Regions from separate parts of the Homo sapiens genome. Here regions 1 and 3 are each linked to region 2. Evidence: fine-mapped expression QTL. A gene starts in region 2. Each other region holds a variant in brackets. All regions are shown on one strand. Distances are between the middles of the regions.

Region 1 (11,157 bases), 30 kb before region 2:
TCCAGGAAAGTCAATAGTGTGATGGTAGATTTAATCCCAAATATATAAATAAATACGTCATATGTAATAAAATACAAATATTTCAGATAAAATTTTAAAAGGTCAAAACTGAACTAATTACTGTTAAAAAGAAGTAAATTTTAATGCATACAAAAACTGTAAAGTACAAGGATGAGAAATGATGTATCGAGCAAACCTTAACCCAAAAAAAACTGATCAGAGAAAATTGACCTTAGAGCAAAATATGTTACTGATGAGCAAAGGGATTAATTTTTAATTATAAAAATAGTACAATCTTCAGAAAGATGTAATCATTTTAAGTGTGTATATATTTAATAACAGAACCTCTAAATATACATAGCAAAAGTTGACAACCCACAGAATATTAGATAATATTTTAATACATGTAATTAAGAAAGGATATATATCCAGAATACATAAAAAACCAGGGAACATTCAGAGGCTGTAAGCAATATTCTTGATAAAAATAAGATGATGGCTTGGCTTGAGGAGGTGGGAGAAATACAGAGTTAAAAAATGCTTGTGTAGGATTAGAATACGATTGATGGAGCATAGAGGGTATGTAACAGAAGGTATCAATGACAAACTACCAGACATTTAACACAGACAATTGAGCTAACTGTTGGGCCTTCTACCAAGAAAAGACACTTGCAGTCCCATAGCCCTCCTAGGGTTCCTGATTCCTTTAGCTCTTGCCTCTCTTGATTAGGGACTGTTGTAGGGTTCTGAAATAATCTCCACATAATATTCCTTGTGCCACCTTCCTACCCAGCATTTCCACTTCTGCCTGGACTTGGCCAGTAGCCATAGCCTACTCTTGTCCCAGAAAGCACCCAGACAAGAAGGACAAGCAATGCACCCACCCCCCGACACTGGTAGCCGGGCAGGCAATGCTTGCTAGAGCTTCCAGACCAGTAGTCCTTCTTATATGTGAACTCAGCCAGAAATTGCAGTCTTTAGGTGTGCCAGAGGGCACAGCCTCCTGTAATCAGAAAACACCCTGACAGCAGGGCAGGTGATGCAACCCAACCCTGCCACTGGTAGCCTGGTGGGCAATGCCTGCTAGAGTTCTGGCCTAGTGGTCCTACTTCTCTGTGAACTGAGCCAGCAGGTGCAGCCTCCTGTTTCCCTGGGAAGCATCCAGATGCCAGAGAGGACAGCCCTACCCACTCCTACCACTGGTAGACAGGTGAGCCACATCTGCTGGAGCTTCCAGCTCAGCAGTGCTACTTCTTTCTGCCTGAAATTACCAAGAAGTGCAGCATTCTCTTGCCCCAGAAACACCCAGATGATAGGGTGGGCAACTCCACCAATCTTTGCCTTTTGTAACCAGACACCCCAGCTTATAGCCCAGTGGTCCTGCTTCTACCTAAACTCCATAGGTAGGGACAACACTGTGTTACCCTGGAAAGCATTCAGACAGCAGATTAGCGCTAAGCTGTAAGGATACTACTTGTCCGCCAACTGTGGCCCCTGCCTAAGGGAGTTCTGTGGACCAGAATGCCCAACATAATAAATGTGAGCAGAGAGACAGTAATCAGGGAAGCCTCATCCAATACCCAGGAACTGACTAGGATCAAAGCCAGTCTACTGACTAGAATCAAAGCCAATCAACTAAACCCAACTTATACCACAATCAAACCCCCAAGGGCATCAAAGGCAATAAAAGAAAAAAAAAAGCCCATCTAAAAGATAGCAGCTTCAAAGATTGAAGGAACATCAGCACAAACAGATGACTGAGAGCTGTGCAAGAACTGGCAACTCAAAAAGCTAGAGTCTCTTCTTATCTCCAAATTACTCCGCTAGTTCTCCGGCAATGGTTTTTAACCAGGCTGAAAGGCTGAAATGTCAGACGTAGAATTCAGAACATGGATAGGAACAAAGATCATCAACAGCAGAAAGTCTACACCTAATCCAATGAATCTAAGGAATACAATAAAATAGTACAGTAGATAAAACATGAAATTGCTATTTTAAGAAAGAACCAAACTGAACTGATGGAGCTAAAAACACTCATTTCATTAATTTCACAATCACGTGTAGTTTTTATCTATCTTATTTTTATTTCTTATCTGTCTTAAAAATCCACTTTATTGAGGTATAATTGGCATACAAAAAGCTGTATATATTTAATGTATACAACTTGATCATTTGGTAGATAAATATACACTCATGAAACCATCACCACTTTCTGTCTTTTACTTTTTCTTCTGGAAAATTTAAAACACACACAAAAGTAGGGAGGTTAGTATAATGAATTACCATACATCCACCAGTCTGCTTCAACAATTATCGATAGTTTGCCAATGTTTTCTCATCTCTCTCCACCCTGCACATATTTGTAAGAGTATTTTAAAGTAAATCTCACATTTAATATCACCTCACTAGTTTATACCTTGGTATGGATCATTAACAGATGACACTTATTCCATAACATTTTCTAATATCATTATCACATTTTACAGCATTATCAATAATTCCTTAGTATCATCGAATATAGAGTTCATATTCAAATTTTATTATTTTCTCATACATATTTGTTCATTTTCTTAAGTCAAGAACACCCCAGCCCCATCCATCCAAAGGCCAGACATTGCATTTTGTTGATATGTTAATTAAGTCTCCTTCAATCTATATTTTCCCCTTCCCACTCTTTTTTATTCATGTCATTTATCTATTAAAGAAACCATGTCACTTTTCCTATAGAATATCTACATTTCAGGTTTCTTATTTAAAAATTTCTTAATTTTTTTATACTTTAAGTTCTGGGATACATGTGCAGAAAGTGCAGGTTTGTTACATAGGTATACACGTGCCATGATGGTTTGCTGCACCTATCAGCCTGTCATCTACATTAGGTATTTTTCCTGATATTTTCCCTCCCCTAGCCCCCGACCCCCCAGCAGGCCCCTGTTGTGTGATATTCCCCTCCCTGTGTCCATGTGTTCTCATTGTTCAACTCCCACTTCTGAGTGAGAACATGCAGTGTTTGGTTTTCTGTTCCTGTGTTAGTTTGCTGAGAATGATGGTTTCCAGCTTCATCCATGTCCCTGCAAAGGACATGAACTTGTCCTTTTTTATGGCTGCATAGTATTCCATGGTGTATATGTGCCACATTTTCTTTATCCAGTCTATCATTGATAGGCATTTGGGTTAGTTCCAAGTCTTCACTATTGTGAACAGTGCTGCAATAAACATACATGTGCATGTGTTTTTATAGTAGAATGATTTATAATCCTTTGGGTATATACCCAGTAACGGGATTGCTGGGTCAAATGCTATTTCTGGTTCTAGATCCTTGAGGAATTGCCACAGTGTCTTCCACAATGGTTGAACTAATTTACACTCCCAGCAACAGTGTAAAGGCATTCCTATTTCTCCACATCCTTTCCAGCATCTGTTGTTTCCTGACTTTTTAATAATCACCATTCTAACTAGCATGAGATGGCATCTCATTGTGGTTTTGATTTGCATTTCTCTAATGATGAGTGATGAGGAGCTTTTTTTCATATGTTTGTTGGCCATATATGTGTCTTCTTTTGAGAAGTGTCTGTTCATATCCTTTGACCACTTTTTGTTGGGGTTGTTTGTTTTTTCTTGCAAATTTGTTTAAGTTCTTTGTAGATTCCGGATATTAGCCCTTTGTCATATGCATAGATTGCAAAAATTTTCTCCCATTTGTAGGTTGCCTGTTCACTCTGATGATAGTTTCTTTTGCTGTGCAGAAGCTCTTTAGTTTAATTAGATCCAATTTGTTAATTTTGGCTTTTGTTGCCATTGCTTTTGGTGTTTTAGTCATGAAGTCTTTGACCATGCCTATGTCCTAAGTGGTATTACCGAGGTTTTCTTCTAGGGTTTTTATGGTTTTAGGTCTTACGTTTAAGTCTTTAATCTATCTTGAGTTAATTTTTGTATAAGGTGTAAGGAAGGGGTCCAGTTTCAGTTTTCTGCATACGGCTAGCCAGTTTTCCCAACACCATTTATTAAATAGGGAATCCTTTCCACATTGTTGTTTTTATCAGTTTTGTCAAAGATCAGATAGTTGTAGACGTGTGGTGTTATTTCTGAGGTCTCTGTTCTGTTCCATTGTCTAATATCTGTTTTGGTACCATACTGTAGCCTTGTAGTATAGTTTGAAGTCAGGTAGTGTGATGTCTCCAGCTTTGTTCCTTTTGCTTAGGATTGTCTTGGCTATATGGGCTCTTTTTGGGTTCCATATGAAATTTGGTAGTTTTTTCTAATTCTTTGAAGAAAGTCATTGGTAACTTGATGGGGATAGTATTGAATCTATAAATTACTTTGGGCAGTATGGCCATTTTCACGACATTAATTCTTCCTATCCATGAGCATGAAATGTTTTTCCATTTGTTTGTGTCTTCTTTTATTTCCTTCAGCAGTGGTTTGTAGTTCTCCTTGAAGAGGTCCTTTACATCCCTTGTAAGTTATATTCCTAGGTATTTTATTCTCTTTGTAGCAATCATGAATGGGAGTTCAATCGTGATTTGGCTCTCTGTCTGTTATTGGTCTGTAGGAATTCTTGTGATTTTTGCGCATCGATTTTGTATCCTGAGACTTTGCTGAATTTGCTTATCAGCTTAAGGAGATTTTGGGCTGAGACAATGGGGTTTTCTAAATATACAATCATGTCATCTACAAACAGAGATAATTTGACTTCCTCTCTTCCCATTTGAATACCCTTTATTTCTTTCTCTTGCCTAACTGTGGTGAGAGAGGGCTTCCTTGTCTTGTGCTGGTTTTCAAAGGGAATGTTTCCAGCTTTTGCTCATTCAGTATGATATTGGCTGTGGGTTTGTCATAAATAGCTCTTATTATTTTGAGATACATTTCATTAATACCTAGTTTATTGAGAGTTTTTAGCATGAAGGGCTGTTGAATTTTGTTGAAGGCCTTTTCTGCATCTATTGAGATATTCCTGTGGTTTTTGTCATTGGTTCTGTTTACGTGATGAATTACATTTATTGAATTGCGTATGTCGAACTAGCCTTACATCCCAGGGATGAAGCCGCCTTGATCGTGGTAGATAAGCTTTTTGATTCACTACTGGATTCAGTTTGCCAGTATTTTATTGAGGATATTTGCATCGATGTTCATCAGGAATATTGGCCTGAAATTTTCTTTGTGTGTGTGTGTGTCTCTGCCAGATTTTGGTATCAGGATGATGCTGGCCTCATAAAATGAGTTAGAGAGGAGTCCTTCTTTTTCTTTTGCTTGGAATAGTTTCAGAAAGAATGGTATCAGCTCCTCTTTGTACCTCTAGTAGAATTTGGCTGTGAATCCGTCTGGTCCTGGGCTTTTTTTTACAACAATAACAAACTGCCATCTGCTTTTTATCACCTACTTGTAAGAAATTCTACACAATATTGATAACAGAATACTCCTCTCATAAAAAAAAAAAGTTGATTTCAATTCTATCTGAATAATTACCTGCTTCAGAGGCTGCCCTTGGCATGACTCTGTGTCATCTGTTCTCTTCGGGCCTCAGAGGAAACTGAACAGAAAGCTACTCCTGCCTATGTCCTGTTGTGTATCTAGAGGGACAATTTAGCCTCCAGCTTTACACTGCCTCCAGAGCTCAATTACATAGAAAAACCCAACCGTCCTCAGGACACTTTGCTGC[C/T]ATCTGCTGGGAAATTGTGAAAAGTACACAAAAAGTGGTTGGAGCCTCAGATTTGCCTAGCGTTCCCCCTAAACACTCACATGGGACGGTACTTTGTGTGTGCATGTTATTGTATAAATGCATGTGCCCTCAACTATCAGAAAGCATATGGACCATTTAGCATTATCTAAGCTATAAAGAGTTGAGATGCAAAATTTCCTTCCATATTACTTTTTTCTGTTGTCTAGCAAGAGTGGTACCCGAAAATCACTGGAGTGGTCTTGAGGATTTTAGGTGTCTCTGTGTGCAAGTGCTGGAGGGAGGAAATAAAGAGGGTGCCAGTATATGGAAGTGTAGAGAAGCTGTATCATTTAAGAAAGTGAGACAGGAAGAGATGTAAGAGGAAGAAAAGGAAGCTCAGAAGTCCTGATGAAATTACATTACACTGTGTCGGGCTTTGTTCTAAGTGCTGGATGTATATATTTTCTCATCCTGTGATCATGGAGTATTATTATGTTTAACTATCTCCATTCTGCAAACAGAGAAGGAGATACCAAAAAGTTATAAAAGTTGCTCAATATAATGTTTGTGTGTTTGAAGAAGTAAATAGGTTTCTGGAGGGAAAGTGCTCATACATCTGTCTGGTCTGCTGGATTAGATGCCAGTGACCTCTCTGAGCCTATGCTGACCCTGAGTTTCAGATCCGTAAGGGCAGTGGCAATCTGTTGTGAAAGGGACTCATGTTAGTGCCGAGGTCAGTGGCCCTAAGCTCCAAGACCAGGCTTGCCCATGCCAGCAGCCTCTCTACTGTGGCTCTTGGGGCTGCAGCAAAAACAAATGCAGATGGGCAATAGTTATTTTCAGTGAGTGAACCTGGGGGCTTCCTTTGCTTCTGCCCTTATAAATAAAAATAAATTTTCCAAGCCAGCTGCAACTCTGCCATCAGCAGTTGCCCTGAAGACTGCAGTAGAATGTCACCAACATGTCATTGCAGGAAACTGAAACTTAGGTCTTTGTTTCCAAAGTTTGGGAAATACTCATAGTGTCTGAACATGGGGTGAGAAGGGAAAGGAAAACTGGGTTGTTTATAACTGTTGGGAAACAAAAATGTGCTGTGTTTTTATGAGGTTTCTCTTCAGTTGCTTTTCATTTGTTTGAGAGGAAATCTACTGCTTGGTTAATATAAAGTATCTATTAGGCAGAAAGTTGCCCATACCACTGTTCTGGAGGGTGTAGTTCCTCTGTACTTTATGACTTGTGCATGACATTTTGTCCTGAAAAGAGTACTCATTGTTTGAGGGGCTACAGTGAAACACAAAGAAAAGAGGAAGACAGAAGGTCAAACAAGGGGAAAATATTTATATATATATTTGGCACTCAGGGACTTTTATAAATTGCTGAGCTGTATAAAAATGGTACATTAAGTAAAAATAAAACAACTTTGAGGTTCCTAGGACACTTATATTTTCCTCTTTTTCTTTTTTTGGTATTCCTTCAGAAAGGATCAGCTTTATAAAAAGGTGAGATGATAAATGTTTCAGAATAACTTGTAATGTTTATATGCTAATCGTGAAACTTTATAAACATAGATAAAAGAGTAGAAAATGATAAAACAGATATCTACATATCTTCCCCGAGATTCAGGTGACATGATCATTTTCTGTATTTAGATACATCGTTTTCCTCCTTACAGAAATAAAATGCTGCAGGTAGCCCCAAAGCTCTCCCTGTCTCCTCCTCCCCCTGCCTCCTTCCCCAGAGGTATTCACAGTTAGGAGGGAACTTCCTCTGTCTCTAGCCTCACATTTCCTTCCAGCAGAACTTCCTATAGAGAAACACACCTGTTTATTTCCTCTCCTTAACCTGATTCTCTTCAGGGAAAGAGGAATGCTGCACAAAGTTGCAGAGTTTGGAAGGAGGGCTTGGGCTTGTGTGGTTCAGCCCCTCTGTGTTTGGAAGGAGGGCTTGGGTTTGTGTGGCTCAGCCCCTCTGTGTTTCTTCATTTGTTTGGGAGACAGTCTTCCTACTAGACAGCATCATCACCTGCTCTTCCCTTCCCTTGCTAGGGTTTGGAGGTGCCTCTTCTTACAGAGGAGGCCTGGCATGACCCAGCTCTGCCAGTGACTGGTTTGGCACATTAATTGAATTTCATTTGGCCTTGAGTTGAAGGAATTCTTTTCTTATTTTGCAAGTCACTCTAAAGAGAGGACTAGAAGAAAGGGGTATTGTGTATAGGCCCTAGTTCCCCAAAAAACCTATGTTCAGAGACTAGGAACTTTGAAAAATATATTAAAAAAAGCACTTGGGGAGATTGATGCATCTGATAGCAGTAGGAGGTAGACAAATCCTAGGCAAACAGGGGCAGGTGTCTGGTGAACCTCATCTTCAAATCAAAGACAGTTTAAAGCCTGAAAGCCAAGCTACAAGTCTTGACAAATCCACAGACCAGATTGAGAACCTATCTTCCTGTTTGGCATGCTTTCCTCTGAATGATTCTTACCTTTCACCTGTTTTACATGTACCTACCCTTCCCTAATTGGTCTTTTACGTTGTCATGCCCACCTTTGAGTGTTGCCTTTGTTTTAGCCTTTTTTGCATACTCACAAGCCAATCAGCACTCACTCTGCCATTCTGAGCCCATAAAAGCCCCAGACTCAGCCATACTTGGGAACTGACCACCTCCGGGTGAGAGAGAACACCCAACTTTGGTTGGGGGACCACCCTTGCATCCCCTCTCTGCCAAGAGCTGTTCAGTCTCTCAATAAAATCCTCCTCCACTCTCCTCACCTTTCAATTATCAGCATAACCTCATTCTTCTGGGACGTGGGACAAGAACTCAGAACCCACCGAATGTGGGTACAAAGAAGGCCGTAACACTGTGGCCCTCTGCCCTATGACAGTGGCGGGAGCCACCCCATGCAATGAGAAGCAGTGGCAGGAACAAGCCAGCCCTGGAGCTGCAGGCTGGAGTGAGGCTATGGGACTGACAGAGCTGTTTACACACTACCATCCATCAAGCTGCAGATGGTGCGACTAAAATTGCTATTAGTGTGCTGCAACACCCCCTCTGGGGTTTCAGCATTGTGGACACTTCTGCCTGGGTGCCACCGTGTTCTCCTCATCTGGATGCTGGAGTCCACTGTGGGAGTCACTTGTGACATGCCTGGTCAAGCCCTGCATGAAGCCTGCTCCTGTGTCAGTGCTTGGAACGGCTGGCCCAATCCCTCACTCACTCACTCACACACCTCCTCCCACTAGGGGATGAGGGCACTGTTGTAGTGTACATGGGATCCATGCTGGAGTGCAAACCAGGCATGGTCTGGCAGGCTGAGTAGATGGGGCATCTCCTACAGTGAGCCCAGAACTGAGCAAGGCCTGGGTAGGGGCCATCACCAGCCAGAGGTCTCCAGCTTGCAAAGTGGTCAAGAAAAATCCTGTGTCACATCTGTGGTAGCCTTGATTGGGTGGTTTCAAGTCAACAATGAAGTCCAGTGTTGGTTCTACATTGGTAACACAGTAGTATGTCACTTAGGGGCATCATGGGACACTGGGAGATGAGGTGGACAAGCCTTGTTTGAACAATGGATGCTTTTGGAACACTAAGAGTCTTGAAGACTCAATGAAAGGGGTATGTTAGGAAGACAAAAATGTCCAGACCAGTAAGAAAAAAAAAAGACAAAAGAAAGAGAAAAGAAAATAGAATATACTATAATCAATTAACGTCATCAACCTTACAATGTTACATCAACAGATATGGAACTGGATCCAATTAAGGAGCAGATGAATTGTTAGGAGCTCAGTCAAGCATTCCAAAATGTGGGAACACTTCAGAAGGATGCAGAATTCGAGGGTCATACATAAATCATGCAGAAACAAAATGCTGTGGATAAAAGAAACATTTCCATTTCTTTGAGGTACCACAGTATTTTAGGATGAAGCACCACACACAAGGCCTGAACGATCAAAGGCTGAAGAGATGCTAGACTCTGGAGTGGAGCACATTGGTGGAGGGACTGGCTGTCCTGAGCCTCCAAGGGCCACCGGCTCCCTAGGCCTACATAGCAGCTTTGGTTCACCCTTTCTCTCAGAGCTGTTCTTTGGCTGAAATTACAATGAGGACAAGGGGAAAATTGTGCCTGTAAGGTTTGCTTTAGAAGCCTAAATGATTCCATTGAAAGAAACAGTGGCCATAGCTACTGTGGCAAGGGACTTTTGTCACTAGAGACAGATCTCACTTGATGCAACATGAGGATGCCAGGAACACAGAGACCAGAGAGGAAATGAATATCAGGAGGTTTTGAATAAGGCCAATGGGACAGAAGTGCCTCAAGAGTGACTTTGGAACCTGGGGCCATCACCAAATTTGTAAACTTTGCAAAGGTACCATAATGTAAACCAAAAATAAAATTCTAAGGCCCCAACCATCTGAATGGACTTCCTCCTCAGCCAGGGCTCTTTTAAAATTTAACCCAAAAGACTGGTTCAGGCCTTGATGGGAAGTGGGGGTCGAGCATGCTTCCTTATACCTCTCTGGCATTAACATCAACACAGACTTTAGGTCTGATAAAAAAAAACATTTTACAGCCTATTGCCTCTGAAGCCTGCTACCTAGAGGCTTCATCTTTATCATAAAACTTTGGTCTCCACAACCACTTATCACAAACCAGATATTCCTTTCTATTGATTCCAGATCTTTGAATAAACTCAACCAATTATCAACCAGAAAATGTTTACATTTACCTATGGCCTGGAAGCCCCCACAACCTGCCTCTTGCTTCGAGTTGTCTCACCTTTCTGGAAAAAAGCAATATCTTTCTTAAATGTATTTGATTGATGTCCCGTGACTCCCTAGAATGTATAAAACCAAGCTGCACCCTGACCACCTTGGGCACATGTTCCGAGGATCTCCTGATGGCTGTGTCACAGGCCATGGTCACTCATATTTGGTTCGGAATAAATCTCTTCAAATATTTTAGAGTTTGACTCTTTTCATTGACAATAATATCTCAAAGGCCATGCTCTGAAAGAGAATATAATATGCACACACTGATTTCTCCGTCCTCCACTGATGGCAGCATGAAAAGGTGCCTGAATTCAGGGTTAATTGATTTTAACACAAATCATTGACTCTGAAAATCTGGAGTTGATTGTCATCCTTGAGATTGAAAATCAAGGTTTCTTTTTCTCCGTCTACCCTCCTTCCTTCAGATACTCCTGAGTTATTGCTTTGGTGTTTGGAAATAATATCATGGGTATAGATTAAGTATTGGGTCTGGTACATAATTTTCCCTGGGCTAACTGTTTAAGAAGCTTGATATTACTGTCATCATCTACATTTTGCAAATGTGAAGCTGGTACTAAGAAAAGTTGGAATACTGCTAAAAAAGAAAACCATCCTTAACCCCATGCAGAATTTGAGGGATATCACTGAATGAAAAGTAGCAAAACCAAAAAATGAAGCAGGATGATTTTGGGAGTGTTTTTTTAACTCCCAGGGTAAAGGAGTTTATTTTATTTTT
Region 2 (11,157 bases):
TCTTTGCTACATATGTACTATTTGAAGAACCATTTCTTAAGCACAAAGGAAACCCATATGGGAAAAAAAAACATTTTGTGCTTTTAATTTAGAATTATATAGGCACTGGAAAAATATTTTTATTAAAAGGATACAAAATAATATTTTTTCTAGATTCAAAATGAGGAATTACAGTGCTTAGATCTATCACCTCAACTTTACATGACTCCTACTTCCTAATATATTTGTTTTCACATTTTCCCTCTGTTCTAATCTTTTATTCCAGATATCTCTAAGGCTTTTACCAATCTCTTTAGCTGAGATTGTAATATAATTTTCTCTGATACTGTATCTCAGTTCACTGCTGACTGATGTGCCACCTACATCCATTCTCTGCATTGTTTCTATTTTACCCACCCAATAGCATTCAACAGAAATGTTCCTACCTGGTGTCAGACATTGAGAAATGTTGAAATCAAAAAGATAAATAAGATACATTATCTGTCCTCAGAGATACAATGAACTGGTAAGAAAAACACTTATAAAAATATAATTTTCAAATAATGGCTAATCTTGGTGGATTAAACACATCTATTTCCTCATGAAACCCAACTAAATGACTATAAAGGGTCTGGGAGAAAGTCATAAATCCAAAAATTCAAAAATAATATGAGAGAAATTGGATCATTTTTTTAAATGTTAGAAACCAGCTAGACAAGCAATAAATGACTTAGCAGCCTCCGGAAAGTGAAAACCTGACTGACGGAATTGGAAGCTTAGAAAAAATTTGATTCTCTTTGTAGAACCCCAGTAAGTCTCAAGAATTATAAGTGCTTTCAGTTGAATATGTCTGGGGACACAGCTAATTGTCTGAGAAGGTAGTTGTATTAGTATGTTCTCACATTGCTAAAAAAGACATAACCAAGACTGGGTAATTTACAAAGAAAAAGAGGTTTAATGGACTCACAGTTCCACATGGTTGGGGAGGCCTCAGAATCATGGTGGAAGGCAAAATGCACATCTTACATGGCGGCAGACAAGAGAGATTGAGAGCCAAGCAAAAGGGAAAACCACTTATAAAATCATCAGATCTGGTGAGACTTATTCATTACCACGAGAAAAGTATGGGGGAACACGCCCCCATGATTCAATTATCTCCCAGTGGTTCCCTCCCACAACATGTGGGAATGATGGTAGCTACAATTCAAGATGAAATTTGGTGGGGACACTGCCAAACCATATCAATAGTGAATACTTAAGTAAGTGAATTCCCTGAGAATAGTGAATTAAGATCCCTGAAGGCCTAGAGTATAACCAGTCCTAACTGGAATAGGAGAATATAAGGCGCCAGGAAGGGAGAGTGTATACAGAAAAATACTAATGAAACAGATCAATTACCTGTGGGTCTATAGACACTGAGATTTACATTTATGGTGGAGTATTTAAAACAACTTATTTTCAGGTATGTAGAAAACAGCATATGAAACATGAGGCAGTTACTAACTTCAGAGAGAAAAATGGTCAAAAGGAAGCGTAATCATAACACTCATAATGAATTAGCCATTAATGATTTAAATACTATAAATTGAGTTAACTAAAAAATCGTGATAAAACTATATGGGAGAATGAGGGAAAAGGAAGTGTTATGGTGGGAAGGTGTGTCCAGGGTAAAAATGAAGGATATAGGGGTTAGTCTATTGTCTTCAGTAGTAGGAGGTTAGTGCATAATATATAAAACCAAAAATTAGAACAGTATTTAAAATCATTCACTTAGAAATATGGAGTCAACACAAAAAGAAACAATTAAAATTTAAATACTTGCTTCTGGAGAAAGAAAATTGATTGGGAACTGGGGAAGGGGGCACTAATGATTTCTTTCAGGCTAAATCCAGTGAACATTTTACTGTTGTTAGCTTGTCTCTCTGAAGTATTTAATAATAATTGAATGATTTCTTCCTACTGAAATATTTCTGTGCTCAAAAAATGATAAGTAATTTATTTATATTACCTAATATAACCCTTTCAACAACGCTATGACATATTACTATCTATATTTTACAGATGAGTAAACTGAGGTGCAGAAAGCCTAAGCAACTTGCTCCAGCTCACATAGGGCATAGGATTCAAAATCCAGCTCAAGGCCGGGTGCAGTGGCTCACGCCTGTAATCCCAGCACTTTGGGAGGCTGAGGAGGGTATATTACTTGAGATCTGGAGTTCGAGAACAGCCTGGCCAAAATGGTGAAACCCAGTCTCTGTTAATATATAATATAACATATTATATAGAGATACATTCTATTATATATATAATATATTCTATTATAATATAATATATATTCTATTATATAATATATATTATATATTATATCTATTATATATAATATATCTGTATATGATATATAATTATATATAATATATAGATATTCTATTATATATAATAGGATATATATTCTATATATATAGAATATATATATTTCTCTGTCAAATTTCATGTTATTGTTCTCTTGAAATTGTTATCTGCTAATAATAACCTGATACTGTCTCATTTCATACCATATGGAGTGGGAGGAGAGACTGATGCCTGTCCTTAGTCCAGAATTTCAACCTCTCTTAGGAAGTCATGAAACTCTGTACCCTTGTCTTCTGCAATGCCACATTTTCCGAGTTTGCCTGCTATCTTCCTTACCCTCTTTTTCATAATCCTCTGGGAAATCTTATTTCTGATTATACTGTCTCTATCCTCTAGAAAAAGGGTTTGACGTTTTCTGCCTCCACCCACAAGCCTGGGTGACCTCATCCCTCTGGGCGAAGAGCTGTTGGGTTTACCTCTATAGCCATGTTCTCATTCCCTAGCTCCTGCCAGTTATCCACTTCTTGTCAACTTTATTTGAAGGTCCCTACACAACTCTGATCAAATACGTTCAAAATTTTACTATTTGTTCCTGCAGTTCTGTCCTGGTCCATGTCTATTGCCTTACTGAATGGCTCTATCACTCATTCAGTTTCCTAACCCAGAATCTGAGTGTCATCCTTTCCTGTTTTTTCTCCTGATTTACACATCCATTATACCAACAAGTACTGTCATTTCTTGTTCCTAAGCATCTTTCAAATCCATTCATTCTCTCCAACTTCACTAGCATCACAGGTAGTTCAGTAACCATCATCCCTTCCCTAGAGAACTGCCTCTACCTTGAGCCTAATTCTCTGATTTTATTATTATTTATTCCTGTTGTCTGAAACCAGGACAATATTTCTGAAATATAATCTATTTTAATTTTGAGAATCGTAATTTCAGATTATAGACCACATAGTTTTTGGAATTAAGTAAAACTGGATTTCAATCTCATCTATACCAGCTATACGAATATCTCTGAGTTTCAGTTTCTTCTTCTGAAAAATAGAAATAATAATATTACCTTCCTTCATTCCCTTTCCATTTGTGTGTCTTTTGCTCATTCATCAGGTCTCCAATTAGATGTCCCCTTATCTAGGAAGTCTCCTCTGCCTACCCAATGTTGGGTTCATTGATCCTCCTATGAGCTCTCTTAGGATATCCTACTTTACCTTGCAGATCACTGATTACAATGGGTTGTAATGATGTATTTACTCATCTGTATTGCCACTTTACCTTGCAGATAACTGATAGTAATGGATTGTAGTGATTTATTTACTGGTCTGTTTTTCCAAGTAGTCTATAAACTCTTTGAGTGAAAATTATTTTTTACCATTTTTTCAGAAGCACACGGCACACTGCTTGGCTTATAGTAGTTTTTCTAAAGAAAATGCTGAATGAATGAAAACTGCACACCACTTTGCTTTCCTCCTCCATGTAAAGTAGGCATTATTTTATTTTACAAATGAATCTTAGGTTCAGGAGATTAACAGGGCCATGCAAGAAATGTTTGCCATTGGTTTGATCTTAGTCAAAGACCAGCTCGTTCTATGATACCAGCTGCTTCCTTCACTTAGAAAGGTGTTGTTTTATTGCCATACAACCAACTTGTTGCCATTTTATGGCCACTCCTGATGAATCTCTAAAGGTGGAATTTCATGTAAATAAAACATTTAAGTTGTGTATATTAAGGTTGGTGCAAAAGTTAATTGTGATTTTGGCCATAAAATAATGGCAAAAACTGCAATTACTTTTGCACCAACCTAATAAAATAGTAATAGTAGTGCTCCAGGAAGACAAGAGTACTGTGGAAATGTGTGACCCTGTGAAAGGGGGTATTTACAAAATACCATTTACTTGTTTATATAACGACTTTTGAAGAGAGTCTGGCATACAGTAAATCCTCTACCACTGATATCCACAGTAATTAGCAGTATTATTTTCATAGGAAAGACTGTATCAGGCAGCCCCTGCTTTTTCAGCAAATTTCAAAATAGACATCCACACCCATATTGGGAACACAAAATCAGTTAATGCTTCCGATATAAAAGAGGAACTAGCTGTGCGTCTCAGAAATTCTCAGCACAGCCTTTAAGGTTCCAAACATCTGCTAGAAGAGGAATGCAGATTTAAACTGAGTGAGGTGTGGAGTGGGGGAAGTTGATTGGGTCTAGACCAAAGAACTTTGAGGAACTTGCCCAGAGCCCTGCATGCATCAGACCTACAGCAGACATTGCAGGCCTGAAGAAAGGTAGGTCCAGGGACTTGCCTTCCTAGGCTTTCGGGCTGATGGCTTGTTTCACTTCCTGGGTTAAGAATTTCTGGGAGGGGAATGAGAAGAATAATGAGGCCACTTCCCATGACCCAAGCTGGTATTCAGGGTTGGGGTGGGTTGAGTGCACCTTTAAATGTGCATTCGGTGGGGGGATGAGGAACAGTTTTTGCTACAGTCGATAGGAGTTAGAAAAGCCTCCTAAAGGCTGACATTGGAGGCTGGATAAGGTTGTTTAGTTACTTTTGTCCCCTGAGTCTTCAGGATATCAAAACACTGAAAGCAACATTTTAAACCTTTGACTAGTTACCTCATCTACTGTTAATGCCCTTCTTCTGTGGTCTTTATTCTCTGTGTCTGACTGGTTATTTTTATAACTCAGGATTTAAGAACAGATGTATCACATGCAGAATTTGGTGTACATGGAGTAGGGCACAGGCAGGGTCCCCAGCCTTGTACATTTAGATGGGCTGTGGCCTGACCTAGTTCTCCAGTGGTCTTTGGCACTATTCATGGGGCACCCAGGCAGTAAACTGAGGCTGCTCATGATAAAATCTGCTAATGAAAAACACCTTGTAGACTTTTAGCATTCTTAGGATAAGAAAGAAGCTTGTAAGTGGTCGTGGCCATTGTAATCTTTCCCCAGATGAAGTAAAAGAAGCCAATAAAAGGGAAATAATGTACCCAGAATCACACAAGTTAACAAAAGGGCTGGGAGAAAAACAAAAACAAAAACAAAAACAGAATTCTTGGTTCCTAGCCCGGGCCTTTCCCCCTTTTCCCTTCCCATGCCACCACTTCTGCATCCCCATCATCCTTCTAAAACCATCCAGATTCAGGCCTCATTTTGGGTTTCTAGTCTATTTGACAACTTTGCCAAGAAAAACGGATGGCTGTTTGTACCACTCTCCTCATGCTCTCTCCTTGCAATTGTGACCCATGAGGAGGATGGTGACATAAAAATGAGGAAATAAGAGACTGGTGGTGCTGCTGATCCACAAGGTGACTGGGGCCAATAGAAGAGGGAAGGGTGGTCTGGGTTTCCCCACCTCTTTATCAGGGGTGTGGGGGAAAGACATTGTATTTCTTAAGAGCCTGATGCATATAGGTGATGTGGCAAAACCAAGGTTTAAATTCTTCTCCAACCTGGAAGAAATGTCCCTCATATGCATCCAATATTCTCAGCAGTTAAAAAAAAAATTGAATATAGAGAAGTCAAGCCCTGGATGGTAAACACGTTTTTGTTCTTGGGGACTTCATGTGCCGTAGATAATTAACACAAGGATTTCTGTGGTGGAAAAAGAGGAGGCAGTTATATGAATTTATGGCCAGAGTTTCTTAGAATGACAAAGCACCAGCCTTGAATGACCAGAACCTGACCTATGTTACCAAAGAATTATGGGAAAGCATAGGAGTCAGTTACAAGCTTTATTTTGATATAATTGCTCTGCCCTCGAGGAAGCTTACAGTCTTACCAGAGAGGCACTAAACACAGAGAGAGAACCACCAGTGCGTTTGATAAGACAGACCCAACATGTCCTAAATTCTCAGTCTGAAGGTGTGCCTGAGAGATTGAGGCAGAGGTTCTTTTACATTAAAGAAGAATAAAGTACACATTTAGATGGACTAAGAAGAATCATCTTTAGTCACTTTCCAAATAACTTTGACTTTTGCAATGTAGAAGGAACATAACACATTTCTTAAACCCTTATTTACCGTCATAGGCTGACTAATCCACATGTGGGCAATGGTGGGGAAGTGGGGGAATAGTGTCTGAGAGAAGATAGAGACTATAAAATGCTGTTCATGTGTGAGAAGATTAGATGATGTGGTGGGTTTGTTTTTGTTCTTACAAGGTGGTCACAAGAGGGGTGGAACATTCCTGCAAATGGTTTCAATATATGCAGATGTCTCAATATAGGAATGAAATTACGTCTTTGGAACAACTTAAATAAGTCAAATATACTTGGAGCTTTAAAAATTAAAAGGAGAGAGATTCGAGGTAAGACTACAATAGATTTGTGCTGAAGTAGCCGAGCTTTTGTTATCAACATTAAAAATTTTAACTTTATGCTAAGGGTGGTGAAATATAAAAGAAGGCTTTTAAAGGGGATGGTGACTCAATTGTTTTTGTATTTGATCATTCTGGCTACAACATCAGTGGTGGATTGAATATCCAAAGCCACAAATGGACACAGGGAACATTCAGAGGCTATAATGAATACTTCTGATAAAAATAGAATAATGGCTTGCCTTGAGAAGATGGGAGAAATACACAGAGTTGAAAAATGGTTGTGTAGGATTAGAATGAGATTGATTGAGCATAGAGGGTAGGCAATGGAAGGAACCAATGACAAACTATCAGATATTTTTGAGACAGGGTCTCACTGTGTTGCCCAGGCTGGAGTACCCTGATGCCATTGTGGCTTACTGCAGCCTGGGCCTCAGCCTCCTGAGTAGCTGGGATTACAGGCGCCCACCACCACACCCAGCTAATTTTTGCATTTTGTGTAGAGATGGGGTTTCACCATGTTCCCCAGTCTGATCTCAAACTCCTGGGCTCCAGCGGTCCTCCCACCTTGGCCTCCTATACTGCTGGGATTACAGGATTGAGTCAAAATGCCCAGCTTTAAACTTCCAGATTTTTAACATGGATAGTGTAGTTAATTGCTGGACCTTCCACCAAGAAAGGACACTTGTAATTTCATAGCCCTCTTAGGGTTCCTGTTCCCTTTAGCTCTTGCCACTCTTGATTAGCAACTACTTACAGGGCTCTGAAATAATCTCCACATAGGAAGATTTGCGCCACCTTACTTTTTTGAAAGGGAAATTTTGAGGAAGACTGGATGTCTTCTATTTAGGTCTTCTAAGGTTTGAAATAAAAATAACCTCTTCTCCCTTCTGGGACAAGTAGGTAAATTGTCAATTTATGGGCTTTATTAGAATGACTTTAAATTAAGCCCAGAGAAGGACAATTCCCTTAAGTGTAACAAAATTTGAGGATGTGGATTAAATGTAAGACCAAAAATAAGACCTATTTTATTTTAGCCATATGCTCCAAATCTAAATTTTGTGTTCTGTCTAGGAAGTGCTAAAGTGTATATATAGGTCTGAATATACCTACTCCATCGCATATAAATGCAAACCACCTCACAAATTCCATTATCATTGGAACAGAGACTGCAAGAGGAAGACAAGGGCCTCTTGGCCCACCTCTACGTAGTCTTGTTATCTAACTTATTCCAAATTGGGTGGTTTCTACCTTTTAGCTATTATAGATAATGCTGCTAAGAAAATTAATTGTACAAGTTTTTGTGCAAACAAGAGATCTTCCATTCACCAGACTAGTTTAGTGGATCCCCTTAAGCAAAGGAGTTCTGGAATTACATCACCTGGATTTAAATTTTGGCCCTGCCACTGTTTACTCAAGTTACTTAATCTTGTGTTTCTATAATTCTGTCCTGTGAATAATAGAATATATCTCTCAGGGGAATTTAATGATGAAATAACACATATAAAACATTTAAACCAGTGCGTGTCACTTAATAAATGCTAAATACATATTGACTATTATTACTGGTATTCCTACTATCACTTACTCATTTCTGGCTTGAAGTATAAAACATAAACTTCCTTTAACACTTCCTGCCACTCAAGGACATGCTAGACAGGGACTTTACTCCTGTCATGACCCTGCTCCAACCTTCTCCGGTCTTGGGGAAAATAGAAAAGCAGATAAGAGGGGTCTATATAATTGGTGAGAGCATGTTTTTCATGGTACCATGTGGTCAGAGGTTGACTCTTCCTCTCTTTTGCAGTTTGTCTCAAAGATTGGTCAGAAGAGTCAGGATTGTCCTCCTTTTTTGCTCTCAGTAAGTTAGATACAAGACTATGCAGAGGCGGGCCTAGAGGCTCTCCTCTTCCTCTTGCAGTCTCTGTTCTAATGATAATGGAGTTTATGAGGTGGGTTACATTCACATGCTATGGAGTAGGTACATTCAGACCTATATCGACACTTTAGCATCCTCTGAGCAGAACACAAAATTTAGATATGGATCAAAGGGGTAAAATAAAATAGCAGGCCTTATTTTTTGTCTTAAATTTAATTTGTACTCGCAAATTTTGTTAAACATCAGAGAACTGTCCCCCTCTGGGCTTAATTTAAAGTCATTCTAATAAAGCCCATAAATTAACAATTTACCAACTGCCCCAGAAGGGAGAAGAGGTAATTTTTATTTCAAACATTAGAAGACCTAAATAGAAGATATTCGGCCTTCCTCAAAATTTCTCTTTCAAAAAAGTAAGGTGTTACAGGAAAAGTATGTGGAAATTATTTCAGAACCCTACAAGCAGCCTCTAATCAAGAGTGGCAAGAACTCAACGTAACAGAAACCCTAAGAGGGCTATGGGACTGCAAGTGTCCTTTCTTGGTGGAAGGCCCAGCAATTAACTACATTGTCTGTGTTAAAAATCTGTAAGTTTAAGTTTGGGCATGGTGGCTCACTCTTGTAATCCCAGCACTACTGGATGCTGAGACGGGAAGATCACTTGAGCCCTGGAGTTTGAGACCAGCTTGGGTAACATAGAGAAACCCCATCTCTACAAAAAATACAAAAATTAGCTGGGTGTGGTGGCACAGGCCTGTAATCCCAGCTACTTGGGTGGCTGAGGTCGAGGCTGCAGTGAGTCACGATAGTGCCAGTGTACTCCAGCCTGGGCAACAGAATGAGACCCTGTCTCAAAAAAGTCTGGTAGTTTATTGGAGGAACCAGTCCCCAATATTTCAACATAGGTTCTTTTCTATTTTCCCTAAGTGTCAGCCAGTCTGAGAAATAAAGAGAATGAGTACAAAAGAGAGAAATTTTACAGCTAGGCCTCCGGGGGTGACATCACATATCAGCAGGCACCGTGATGCCCCCGAGCTGCAAAACCAGCAAGTTTTTATTAGGGATTTCAAAAGACGAGGAATGTACAAATAGGGAGTGGGTCACAGAGATCACATGCTTCAAATGGCAATAAAAGATCACAAGGGCAGAAGGGCAGAGCAAGGTCACAAGGCCAGGGTGAAATTAGAATTACTAATGAGGTTCCATGTCCTGCTGTGCACACATTGTCATTGATAAACATCTTAACAGGAAACAGGGTTCAAGAGCAGAGAACCAGTCTGACTACAATTCACCAGGCTGGAATTTCCTAATCCTAGCAAGCCTGAGGGTGCTGCAGGAGACCAGGGTGTATTTCATCCCTTATCTTCAATCGCATAAGGCAGACACCCCCAGAGCGGCTGTCCATAGGCACCCCCTGGGAATGCATTCTCTTCCCAGGGTTATTCCTTACTGGGAAAAGAATTCAGTGATATTTCTCCTACTTGTTTTCTGCAATAAGAAAAATATGACTTTGTTCTGCCCGGCCCCGCAGGCAGTCAGACCTTATGGTTATCTCCCTTGTTTCCTGAACATCGCTGTTATCCTGTTCTTTTTCAGGGTGCCCAGATTTCATATTGTTCAAACACACATGTTTTACAATTTGTGCAGTTAACGCAAGCATCACAGGGTCGTGAGGCAACGTACATCTTCAGCTTACGAAGATGACGGGATTAAGAAATTAAAGTAAAGACAGGCATAGGAAATTATAAAAGTATTGATTGGGGAAGTGATAAATGTCCATGAAATCTTCACAATTTATATTCAGAGATTGCAGTAAAGACAGGCATAAGATATTATAAAAGTATTAATTTGGGGAACTAATGAATGTCCATGAAATCTTCACAATTTATGTTCTTCAGCCATGGCTTCAGCCGGTCCCTCCGTTCGGGGTCCCTGACTTCCCGCAACAGTAGTTTGTTATTAATGACTTCTATTACCCACCCTCTATGCTCAGTCAATCATTAAATGATGACCTTCTTTGCCTCTTTTGACAGTTTTTGACTTGAAGTTTATTTTACATGATCTAAGTACAGGTAATTATTCTCTTTAGGCTAGTCTTTGCATGGAACAGTCCATCCCTTAACTTTCAACTATGTTTCTTCTTAAGGCTAAAGTGAGTCTCTTACAGCATCTGGTTAGATCTTGTTTTTTAAAAATTTTCCAGCCGCTCTTTGACTTTTGTTCAAAGATTTAATTCATTTATATTTAAGGTTAGCATTAATGGATAAGGATTTACTAGTGACATTTTATTATTTTGGGGGGGTTTGTTTTTGTAGATATTTGTTTCTTTCTTGTGCTCTGGTCTACCTTTGTGATTTAGTAATTTTATGAATTGCTAAGCTTTGAATTCTTTAACGTTTGTGTATCTGCTGTAGTTCTTTGCCTTGTACTCATCATTAGGCTTACATAAAACCACGTAGTTTTATAAATTGACTATTTTAAGGTGACAATAACAATGTTTGTTGAAACAAGAACTCTAGACTTGTACTGTCCTCCCACAAAACTAAATTTTTGATATCTTTGTTTTCTGCTGCTGTAAAAAACCATTGAAGACTGGGTAATTTATTATAAAATTGTATTTTGCTTATA
Region 3 (11,157 bases), 400 kb before region 2:
CCCCGTAATTTTTCTCCCAGTTTTTTTTTGACTCCTTCTTTGTACTCATTGCCAATCTTTTTTGAAACTTTAAATGTTGTATGACCTCAGAGCTTTGTACCTATATTATTTCTCATGCTACACACTCTCTCTAGGTGTTCTCACCCACATTCAAACCTTCAAATAGACTAATATTTTCCCAGTTTTCACTTTTATGTTAGATTCTCTTGAGTCTCAACTTATAGCCAAATGCCTTCTCTGTAATTCTACTTGGATGTCTTATTGCAATTTAAAAACCAGCATATCCAAAATTGAATTCTTAGTTTTCCATTGCAAACTTACTTCTTTATCAGTATAGCCATCTTTGCCATTTTAATAGCTCTGTGACCTTCAATAAATCTTTAATTTCTCTAGGTCTCCAAAATGTAGAAAATAGTTCTTATCTCCTAGGTTTTCATGAGGAGTCAATGAGTTAATATATGGAGGGTGCTTAGAGTAGTACCTGGTGCGTAATAAGCAGTACGTAATTGATGGCTATTATTGTCTCACTAATAACCATCAACTCAGTTATACCTGCCCAAAGTCTGGTTGTTATGCCTGATACTTCTGTCTCCTTTGATCACTTAACCAACCAACCAGAGTGACACATTCTACCTTCTGGGACCAGTCTGTCTCACCCTGCCTTCCCTGCCAATAATCTGATCAGCATTTCCAGTTTCTTGCCCTCTCCGAAATAGCTTCCACATTTGTGTGTTACTATTCACTTGTAGCCCTCTCCAAGCCATTCTCCCCCCAGCTCCTACAGCAGCACTTCTCCAACTTGAGTCATATATGGACCACATTTAGAGAAGGAATTCTTGAGGAACACAGTTTGAAATACACTGTCTTAAGACTTTTAATCCAAGACAATGGAAGTTTTGAATTTTCTTTTGCAACAGAGATATGTTGTTATTGTGCTGATGTTTTTAAAAAATATTTTAAAATCCTCATTCCTGGTTAAATCCTTGAAGCCTTCCACTGCATTTCAAATAAAACTCCAGACTTGAAATGTGATCTCTAAGAACAAGTACTTTCTGGCCATTTGTTAGCCACTTTCTTGACATTCTGTACTTTCGTTTGCAGCACTTATGAAAATAGCAATTAATTTTTGCAGAATTATTTCTTAACTGTGTGTATTTAATGTTTGTTTCCCTGCCTGACTGTGAACTCCTCAAAGGCAGCGATACACCTTTCTCGTTCACTATTGTGTCCTCCACGCTACCATAAAAAATGCCTATGATGTAAGAGGTTATCAAAATGTTTGCTGAAAGGAACCTCAGATCCTTAAGCCAAATGACAAATTAATAACACATACCGGTAGATAATCTCATTGGATAAATATTAGAAGGTTTTACAGGAGCAAACTAGGAAAAAAGTAAATGATAGAGGGGCCTTCCATGGAAATCAGGAGTGCCGTGGGGATGTAAACATCTGGGGTTAAAGTCAAAGTGACCCAAGCATTAAGTATGTTGTTGACATTTACCCAGAATTCCTTTATCTCATCAAGCAGATCCACTTTGAAATAATCAATATCTTTCGTTTCACTTCTCTCCATGCTAAGTAAGAGTTACGTAATTCTGATTATTTGCTTGACTTACTGAAGGCGAACATTGATGAGTGACCTAAGCACAAAGATGTTTAGTGAAACTCAGGTCCTTTCAGGCTTATTGGCAAAGCAAAACAAGTCCCTAAGAGGGTTCCCAAGGAAATCAGTAGATCTCTCCCAAGACAAGTTATTAGGGTAGTGCAAAACTGATCGCGATTTTTGCCATTAAAAGTCATTGCAAATTAAAAGTAATGGCAAAAACCGAGATTACTTTTGCACAAAACTAATACTTTGTGTGGAGGACAAACGGCCCCAAGTCTGCTCCCACCTCACATGCATGGGGACTGGAGCAAGGGTACAAGTGGAGGCACATATCATGTATATTTACATAAAAGCTTTAAATGAAGAAACTGTTAAGATATGTTATGTCTCCTATTTTGACAAACTGACTTTCATAATGCAATAGAAAGATAGACTTTAGTCTACAATTCTCAGAGTCTAGAATCTCTAGAATTTCACATTGGAACACTGCAATGTGGTGAGAGCCACCATCTATCTCCACTGTACTACCATCCCCTGCCCATGGCCCATGGCCAAATCCTTCCTCTTGCTAACCCCACTCTGATCTGCATTGTAGGGGGCCTCAAGTGCACGTGTGTGGACACTCCAGGTGTTGTGTCCAAGCTCCGTCCATATTTCCAGCAGACAACTGCCTCTTGGCCACCATTAGGCCCAGGGCTATATACACCTGAGAGAACTGACTCAGGGAAGGGGCTCAAGCAGCCCTTGGATGTTAAGTTCAAGGCCATTTGGGCAGGAAATTATGAAGGCTTGGGAATTGGATGGCATGTTCCTTTGTTTCAACACATTTCTTGTGCCCAGAGAAGAACATGATGGAGAAGTTCAGAGCGATACCCTCTAATGCATGGGTCCCTGAGCAGAGGCTCTTCCTTCCCAGATCTGAGGGTGATTCAAAGTGGTATGGTAGCAAACTGAATTATTCCATCTCTTTTTCTGTTATAATATGTGGGTGTGTAGAAGAAGTTAATATGGGAGGTAGATGTGACATGTTTCATTGGGTGAAGGAATTTTTATTTTATTTTTTATATCTCTTATGGGAAGGCTTTGTTTAGACTACTGATTCTGGAACTTGGCCCAATGTCATGCTAGTTGGACTGGTCTCTGTTTTCTTTTAGGTCATTCCAGATTCTCAAAAGATAATGACTAGTGGCACAGATAACATACATATTTTGCAAAGTTTATATTATAGATGTTGGAAGTCTCAGGAGATTATATGATGAGAAATAGGATTTGGATTCATTGTTTTATTCCTTATTGATCCATCAAAGATGTCATTTAATGAGTAGCCCCAGGCACATTTGGTTTATTATTTAAAATTATGATGTTACATTTCAGGTCAAAGGATGCTGAGAATTTATAATGTTGATGTTTTAAAAAGGATCTAATATAAAACAGATATAAATAAAATGAAAATAACTGAAAAAGAATTGGAGATCTGCCTCCCTCCTCCTTCATCAGCAGCCCTGAGGACTTCTGCTTAGAGTTTCTCAAAGTGTGAGCCTCCAGGAGTCACCTGGGGGCAGTTGTTTAAAAATGCAGATTCCTGGGTCTTGCCCCACTGAGTTAGACTGTGAGAATTTGCATGTTTGACAAGACCCTGCAGTGACTCATATGCATTCTTACATTTCCAGCTACAATAGATCTCAATGGACTAGATTGGGGTTAGAATACACATATTTTTAAATGGTGTTCCAGATAATTTTGAAAATTAATCTAAAATTTGGGAGCCATTGAAATAAATACTTTCTAAAGTGAACATGCCTGAGGCACAATCTCAAAGTATGATCCTGGGGTCAGCAGCATCAGCAGCACCTGGAAACTTTCAGCAATGTAAATTCTTGGCCCTTCCATTCCCAGCCCTGAATAAGAATTTCCTGAACACAGTTCAGCTATCGGTGTATTAACAAGTGCTGCAGGTGTTTTTGATGCTGCTAAAGTTTGAAAATCATTTCCCAACAATTCAATAAACATGCATTGACCTTCTGTGAACATTCTGTTCTAGGAACTTTGGAGGGCCTGAAGAAGTCACAGTTCTCAAAGATTTGTCAATGGGACTTTATTTGCAGCCTGATTTTGGTTCTGGAGTGATCAAGAGAATGTCAAGTTTCAGCAGGGAGAAAAAATTATTTCTGTGAATATAAAAATAGTGGTTTTTATAAAGAGTTTTAATTTTGTTCTTTATACTTTCTGTATTTTCCAAACATTAAGCAACTTAAATTGGCAAAAACAATACATTCCTGGAAAATATAAGCCATTGGCAAAAAGTGATTTGTAAATGTAGTCAGCTGGGTGTGGCAGCGGGTATAAAAGTATCAAAAGCAGGGCAGCCGCTTCCAATTTCCTGAATTTTTCAGGGGTCATTAGTTGGCAGCTGACGTCATGAAAGATTTTGTGAGGTTACAGTCCTCTTTCCTTTTGTGCACGATTTTGACTCTTTCTGAGCAAGAGTCAGGTACAAGTGACCTTTATATTTTGTTGTTTGAAGTCATAGTTTCTTAGCGGTTGTGGGCCTTTTACTGTTTGCTGTTTTGAGTGGAAGTGACTTTCCAGTATAGTTTTCTGACTTCTGTAGTGGTATTGCTTTCTCTTGTTTGCTCTCTACCACCCCGCAAAGCAAGTGATTTATCTAGTTTATCCTAATACTTGAGAAAGAGCTAGTTTTATTCTTCCTCTGGATTTAGGTGTTTTCTATTGTGTTTTGTCACCCTATTCACCCTACCTGTGGAAAAATATTTCTCTATTTAAGGTTTCAACTTGCTCTTCCACCTCCCACCCTGATCTCCCACTCATAATCCTGCCACCTGCCTCCTGTCCTGCCCTGTTGCCTCCTAAGTGGTCATGAGTTAGTGATCATAAATCAGGTTGAGAAAATAAAGTTCTTCATTTTTTCTCCTTTCACTTCTTATTCTCCCTAAGTCATAAAGTTGTTATCATTAATATTAATAGTTTTATTTGCATTCCACTTACTTTTTCCATATTTTACAGTAATCTTTTCTCATCTAAACTATATATTTTTATTTATGTACAAAGTTATTGGGTAGAAATAATACATATAAAATACATATAATTTTGTTATTTCTAGTTTTTTTTTTAAACCATGAAAATACAGTGATGAATTGCTTTATCTATAGGATATGTTTTTGTCTAAAAATGTTTTTTGGATATGCTTCTGGTAGTAGAATTAATAGACACAAAATGAAGAAATGCTGTTGTAACACCACAGCTGTGAATGTTTTGAGTTGACAGACTTACCACACAAGGTTTTAATCTGAGACTATCTTCCTTTTGCATCATAGAAGGATACAGGGTGGAGACAGAGCAGGTGCAGATCTTCATCTTATTGGCAGGTCTAGCAGATGCCCCAGGGTACAGTTTCCCTTGTCTCTTCACCCACACGGGATGTAGATGTCTGCCAGGGATGAGAGTCAGAGGCCATAGAAGCTGCAGCTTCAGTGCCCTATC[A/C]GTCATTTACACTGGCCTAATTATGTAAACTCAAGGCCAGCACACCAGCTTGAGGCTCCCCCAATCCATGGGCAGCCCCATACAGCAAAAGAAGCAGAGACAGCATCCCATATTTAGCTTAATGTTGAACTTTTAAGGAAACAGTACTCGCAGGGAAGGAGACAGAGGTTGTTTCCAGACAGGCTTGAATGGGACTGATCCTTCATTTACAATTTTACCATTTCATCTGAGTGATCATATTGTATCTCTCAAGGCTGTTTTACAGTGGTGTATATACATATGTTTAAATATGCTATGTTCAGACTTTCTCTGGGTGTCGTTTAGCATAAAATTGCTATCTAAATGTTTAAAAAAATTTTTTTTCAACAGTGTCAGTAGGATGTACTTCCTCTATGTTCTGGGTTGTGGCTGAACCAACTTTACTTGGTCAAGATCATATTTTGCATTCTGATGAAGCATCTCTGGGAACTGGCTGTCCTGTAACCAATGTAACTGCGAAGGGATATGAGTTTAATTACCCTGCCACTCAGTGTGGGATTCAGAAAGAGGTAAGAGCTGCAAGCAGTTCAAATAATAAACTAACCCCTAGGTTGTACCTTGCAGTAGTACTGTGTGTACTGTCAGTGCGAGATTTTTTTATGGCTCTTGAATTACTTTAATTTGGTACTTTCAGGATAGGAAGACCAGTGGGTACCTTGACTTGGCCATAAAATATCATGGCACATAGCCCATTGTGGAGGAGAATACTTCAACATATATAGTAGTATAACTATCCAAGCACTCTTAAGTCTTTTTTAGTCCTTACATCCCCTAAAGTCTAGAAGCACTTAAAGCAGGCATTGTTCCTAGTTTTCATAGTAACTGAGGCTAAAATGAGTAACAATTTACCATAGATCATGCATCTGTTCAACAGGTATGTAACTGAAACTTGCATGTTGGTAAATTGGGATTTACATTCTTCCTTTGAAGAAGCAGGCGATGAAAAAATGGATGATACCAGAGGTAGAATTCACTAGGGGAAGTCAGAGGAAAAAAACATCTGAGGAGGTTTGAGGTGGAGGTGGATTTGCTCGTATGTTGTTTCTAATTTTGACATCTATGTCCATGAATGAGATTGGTCTATAATTCATTCTTTCTCATATGCTCCTTGTCAAGTTTTGAGACAGTTTAGTTAAGATTGGAAGTTTTGGCCAGGCATGGTGGCTTACCCTATAATCCCAGCAGTTTGGGAGGCCAAGGCGGACACGTCATGAGGTCAGGAGATCGAGACCATCCTGGCTAACATGGTGAAATGCTGTCTCTACTAAAAAATATATAAAAAATTAGCCAGGCATGGTGGCATGTGCCTGTCCAGTCCCAGCTGCTCAGGAGGCTGAGGCAGGAGAATTGCTTGAACCCGAGAGGTGGAGGTTGCAGTGAGCCAAGATCATGCCACTGCACCCCAGCCTGGGTGACAGAGCGAGACTATCTCAAAAAAAAAAAAAAAGATTGGAATTTTTTGATCCTTGAATGCTCAATAGAAGTTAATGATAAAATCTCCTGTATCTTTTGTTTTTCTCTGGTTTTATCACTGGGATGAAGTTGAATCCAGGTGATTAAGGCAATAGAACTAGGGAGGAGGAGAGCGAGAGTTTTCTGACAGCAACATACAGACTATTCAACATTAACCTTTGGTGGAGGAAGAAAAGTGGACTCTGCATTCAGTTTGCAGTGGTTTTACAATATGACAAAAATAGTATATTTTGGGAGGCCGAGGCAGGCAGATCACCTGAGGTCAAGAGTTTGAGACCAGCCTGGCCAACATGGCAAAACCCTGTCTCTACTAAACATACAAAAATTAGCCTAGTGGCCACCTGTAATCTCAGTAACTCAGGAGGCTGAGACAGGGAGAATTGCTTGAACCTGGGAGGCAGAGGTTGCAGTGAGCTGAGATCATGCTACTGCACTCCAGTCTGGGCAACAGAGCAAGACTCCGTCTCAAAAAAATAAATAAATAAATAAAAGGTAGTGTATTTATAGGAAAATTAAGTGGTGAATAACCACACTCTCCATTTAGAGGTATGTGTGTCCTATACAAACAATTCTGATTTCCTTCAATATGCTGTTTCACATCTACAAAACTTACTTCATGAAAGTTTGCAGATTTTTAATTTCTTTGGCCTTTGTGGTTTTTCCCATATTTCAAAGTATGACTTATTATGGATATAGGGAAATCATTACAAAGGCCAAAGAATTAATAAGCCAACTTTTCAAAGTTTATACAATTAAATATGAGACACTAAGAGAGGCAGAGACATCAGCCACAATGTTATTACAGGAGGCACAAACTATGACGTAGAATAACCAATCAGAGCTGTAGGTTTCTTTTGAAGATTTTTTTTTTTCCCCCCTGTGGCATGAAAACCATTTCTAAAGTTTTCAGGGTCTTATAAGACCCCTTCGAAATTACCTTTCAAGGACAGATTGTATATGGAACAATTTGGTTAATGTTTAAAATGTTTTCAAATTTCCATAGTATACAAAAGCAATGTTAATATTCACATATTCACATGAGTATTTTGATTTAATACCTTATCAAATCAGATTCTTTGAGTTTTATGAGTCAAAGAATCTCTACCTTGGTGGCTTCATTTCTTTCTTAGGTTTATAATTTATTATAAAGATTTTCCATTTAAAGGGCAGGATCTAGAATTTCAACAGTATTAAAAACAAAATGAAGGACTGTAGCAATCAGTTTAAGTAGCAGACATGGATTAGGAAAGAATAATTAAACATTTAAGTGTACAATACAGTGGTTTTTAGTACATTGACAAAGTTGTACAACTATCACTGCTCTCTAATTCCAGGATATTTTAATCACTTCTCAAAAATGCACCCATACCTATCAGCGGTCACTTCACTGCCTCTTCTCCCCTAGTTATAGGCAACCACAAGTCTAATTTCTCTTTCTATAGATTTGCATACTCTGGATATGTCATATAAATTCAATCATACAATATGTGGCCTTTTGTGACTTTTGCTTGCATGTTTTCAAAGTTTATCTATATCATAGCATGTCTCAATACTGCATTCTTTTTTATGGCTGAATAATTGTTTTCATTTTTTGTTACTGCTGTACCTTTGTGTACATGTTTATGTGTAAACATTTGTTTTCAATTGTGTTGGGTAAATACCTAGGACTGAAATTTCTAGCTCAAATGGTAACTCTATATTTAATTTTTTGGAGTTGCATAGTCTTTTATTTTTCTAAAGATGGTGAGTCTTTGGCTGAATGTCTTCAATGAAAGGTCTAGCAATCAAAGTTAATAATTTATTTGTCCCAACTTCAATTCTTTCCTGGGAACAACTCTTTATTCTATTGTTTGGTTTCTTTCTTTACCACTCACCTAAAATACTAGTTTTAAAACTCACAGGATCAAAACAAAACACTGAAACGCCAGAGTTGTTTAAAATGATTAGATTTTATTAAACAGCCCATTTGGACACCTGTTCATTGGAACTGATTTTTGCTTCAGCCCTAGTTCTTTGAGAAATGCAGGAATTCTTTTCACCACAATATCAGCTTGATCCAAGAATGTTGAAAAGTTAGCTGCCTTAGCGATATTGCCACCTCCAACCTCCAAAGAAATCTAAAAACCTTAGAAGATTACATGTAGTAAAATGTGAACAGGCACCATAATGTACAAGTCATTTGAGAACTATAATTGTGTAGAATTTACTCACTTTTCAAATTATTTTTCTGAATGAATAACAAATTTGTGAAACAAAATATATGGTGCTTAGAAGAGTGGTTAAATGATGGGTTAGCTTCAATGCGAAACTTTTTCTGTCTTAAGAAAGACAGGGGACTGCACAATAATCCTGTGAGGTAGGTCCTCCTATTATCCCCATTGTACAGAAGAGGATAATGAAGTTCAAAAAGATTAAGTAACCTACAAAAGGTCATACAGCCATGACTGTCAGTCTCTTGCTGGACACTGCAAACTTAGCTACTTTTAAAGGAAGATAATTTTAAATTGAGTACTAATTGTTATGCACTAAATGAAAACATTAATGTGATTAATGACAAAATATTTCACAGATAATGGGTTTTCTAGAAAGGTTAGGAAAACCAAGGTTAAGGATTCTGGATTCATATACAGGTCTTTTTCAAATATAAAACATTTCTAATATTCCTGGTTTACTATTGGGAAGAAGGGAAGAATCTTGCCGTGGCTTAAATAACAGACAGCAATTTAATTCCTGGTTATATGTGCAAAAGAATTAATAACAGTTATTTAAACAAATATATGTGCACACATGTTCCGGAAGTGAAAAGGAGGTGGCAAAGAGAGACACAGAAGAGAACTGCTGCAGCTGCTGCCAGGATCCAACTGAACTTCAAACTGTTTTATTAATTTTATTTCCAAATTGTTCATTGCTAGTGTACAGAAATAGAACTGATTTCTGTCGATTGATCTTGTCTCCTACAACATTAGTGAGCATGCTTATTAGTTGTAATAGTTTTTTTTTTTGGGTGGATCTCTTATGATTTTCTATATACAAGATCATGTCTGTTTGTCTGTCTGTCTGTCTGTCTGTCTGTCTCTCTCTCTCTCTCTCTCTCTCTCTCTCTCTCTCTCTCTCTCTATGCAGTCTTAATCTGTTGCCCAGGCTGGAGTGCAGTGGCATGAACTCAGCTCACTGCAACCTCCACCTCCCAGGTTCAAGCAATTCTGCTGCCTCAAGGCTCCCAAGTAGCTGGGACTACAGGTGTGTGCCACCGTGTCCAGCTATTTATTTTTTTATTTTTAGTAGATACCAGATTTCATCATGTTGGGCAGGCTGGTCTCGAACTCCTGACCTCAAGTGATCTGCCCACCTTGGCCTCCTGAAGTGATGGGGTTACAGGCGTGAGCCACTGTGCCAGGCCTCATGTCATCTTTAAATAGAGATAGTTTTAATTTTCCTTTCCAATCTGGATAATTTTTGTTTTATCTTCTTGCCTAATTTTCCTAGCTAGAACCTCCAGTACAATATTGGATACAAGTTGTGAGAGTGAACATCTTTGTATTATTTCTGATTATAAGGGAAAAGCTTTCAGTCTTTCATTGTTAAATATGATGTTGGCTGTGGGATTTTCACAGGTGCTCTTAATCAGGTTGAGGACGTGCCCTTTTATCTTTGGTTGTGGAGAGTTTTTATCATAAATGGTATTTAATTTTATAGTTTTTTCCCCTGAAACTATTGAGATGATCATATGGGTTTTGCCCTTTCTTCTATTAATATGGTGTATTACATTGATTTTTGTATGTGGAGCCAACATATCCTTTTCCTGGGATAAATCCCATTTAGTCATACTGCTTAGTCCTTTTTAGATGTTGCTGGATATGGTATGCTGAAGTTTTTATTTTTTGTTGGGGGGGCGCGTGGTTAGACAATGATTTCTTCTCTTTTTTCTTCAACTTTAATTTTAAGTTCAGTGGTACATGTGCAGGATGTGCAGGTTTGTTACATAGGTAAACATGTGCCATGGTGGTTTGCTACACAGATCATCCCATCACCTAGGTATGAAGCCCAGCATGCATTAGCTATTCTCCCTCCCCATCCCCCTGACAGTCCCCAGTGTGTGTTGTTGTCCCCCATGTGTCCATGTGTTCTCATCATTCAGCTCCCACTTATAAGTGAAAACATGCAGTATTTGATTTTCTGTTCCTGCAGTAGTTTGTGGAGGATAATGGCTTCCAACTCCATCCATGTCCCAGCAGAGTACATGATCTTCTTCCTTTTTATGGCTGCATACTATTCCATGGTGCATATGTACCACATCTTCTTTATCCAATCTATCATTGATGGGCATTTGGGTTGGAAGTTTTTTTACGTACATTCATAAGGTACATTGATCTATAGTTTCTTTTTGTGATGTCTTTGGTTTTAATATCAGGGCAATACATCATAGAATGAGTTGAATAATGTGCCATCTTCTATTTCTTTTTTTAAAAAATATTTATTTTAATTTTTTAAAATTTTATTTTATGTTCTGGGGTACATGTGCTGGATGTGCAGATTTG

The links. PIP is the estimated chance that this variant, and not a neighbour inherited with it, causes the effect.
Region 1: its variant is fine-mapped to the expression of MS4A4A in whole blood (TOPMed, PIP above 0.99).
Region 3: its variant is fine-mapped to the expression of MS4A4A in whole blood (INTERVAL, PIP 0.93).

What each region holds. Positions count from the first base shown.
Region 1 is chr11:60,246,018-60,257,174 of GRCh38, forward strand. No RefSeq gene overlaps it. Among named protein-coding and RNA genes, the nearest start is that of MS4A4E, 8.5 kb to the left of the region's middle. The variant C/T (reference allele first, on the strand shown) is at 5,660.
Region 2 is chr11:60,276,096-60,287,252 of GRCh38, forward strand. It overlaps MS4A4A (membrane spanning 4-domains A4A), which reads left to right and starts at 4,571. Exons shown (of 7, transcript NM_148975.3): 1 at 4,571-4,621. The coding sequence starts at 4,581. RefSeq lists a silencer at 4,456-4,505.
Region 3 is chr11:59,874,785-59,885,941 of GRCh38, forward strand. OOSP3 (oocyte secreted protein family member 3) reads left to right here and starts at 3,998. Exons shown (of 5, transcript NM_001395255.1): 1 at 3,998-4,097; 2 at 5,477-5,655. The coding sequence starts at 4,025. RefSeq lists a silencer at 2,056-2,256. The variant A/C (reference allele first, on the strand shown) is at 5,108.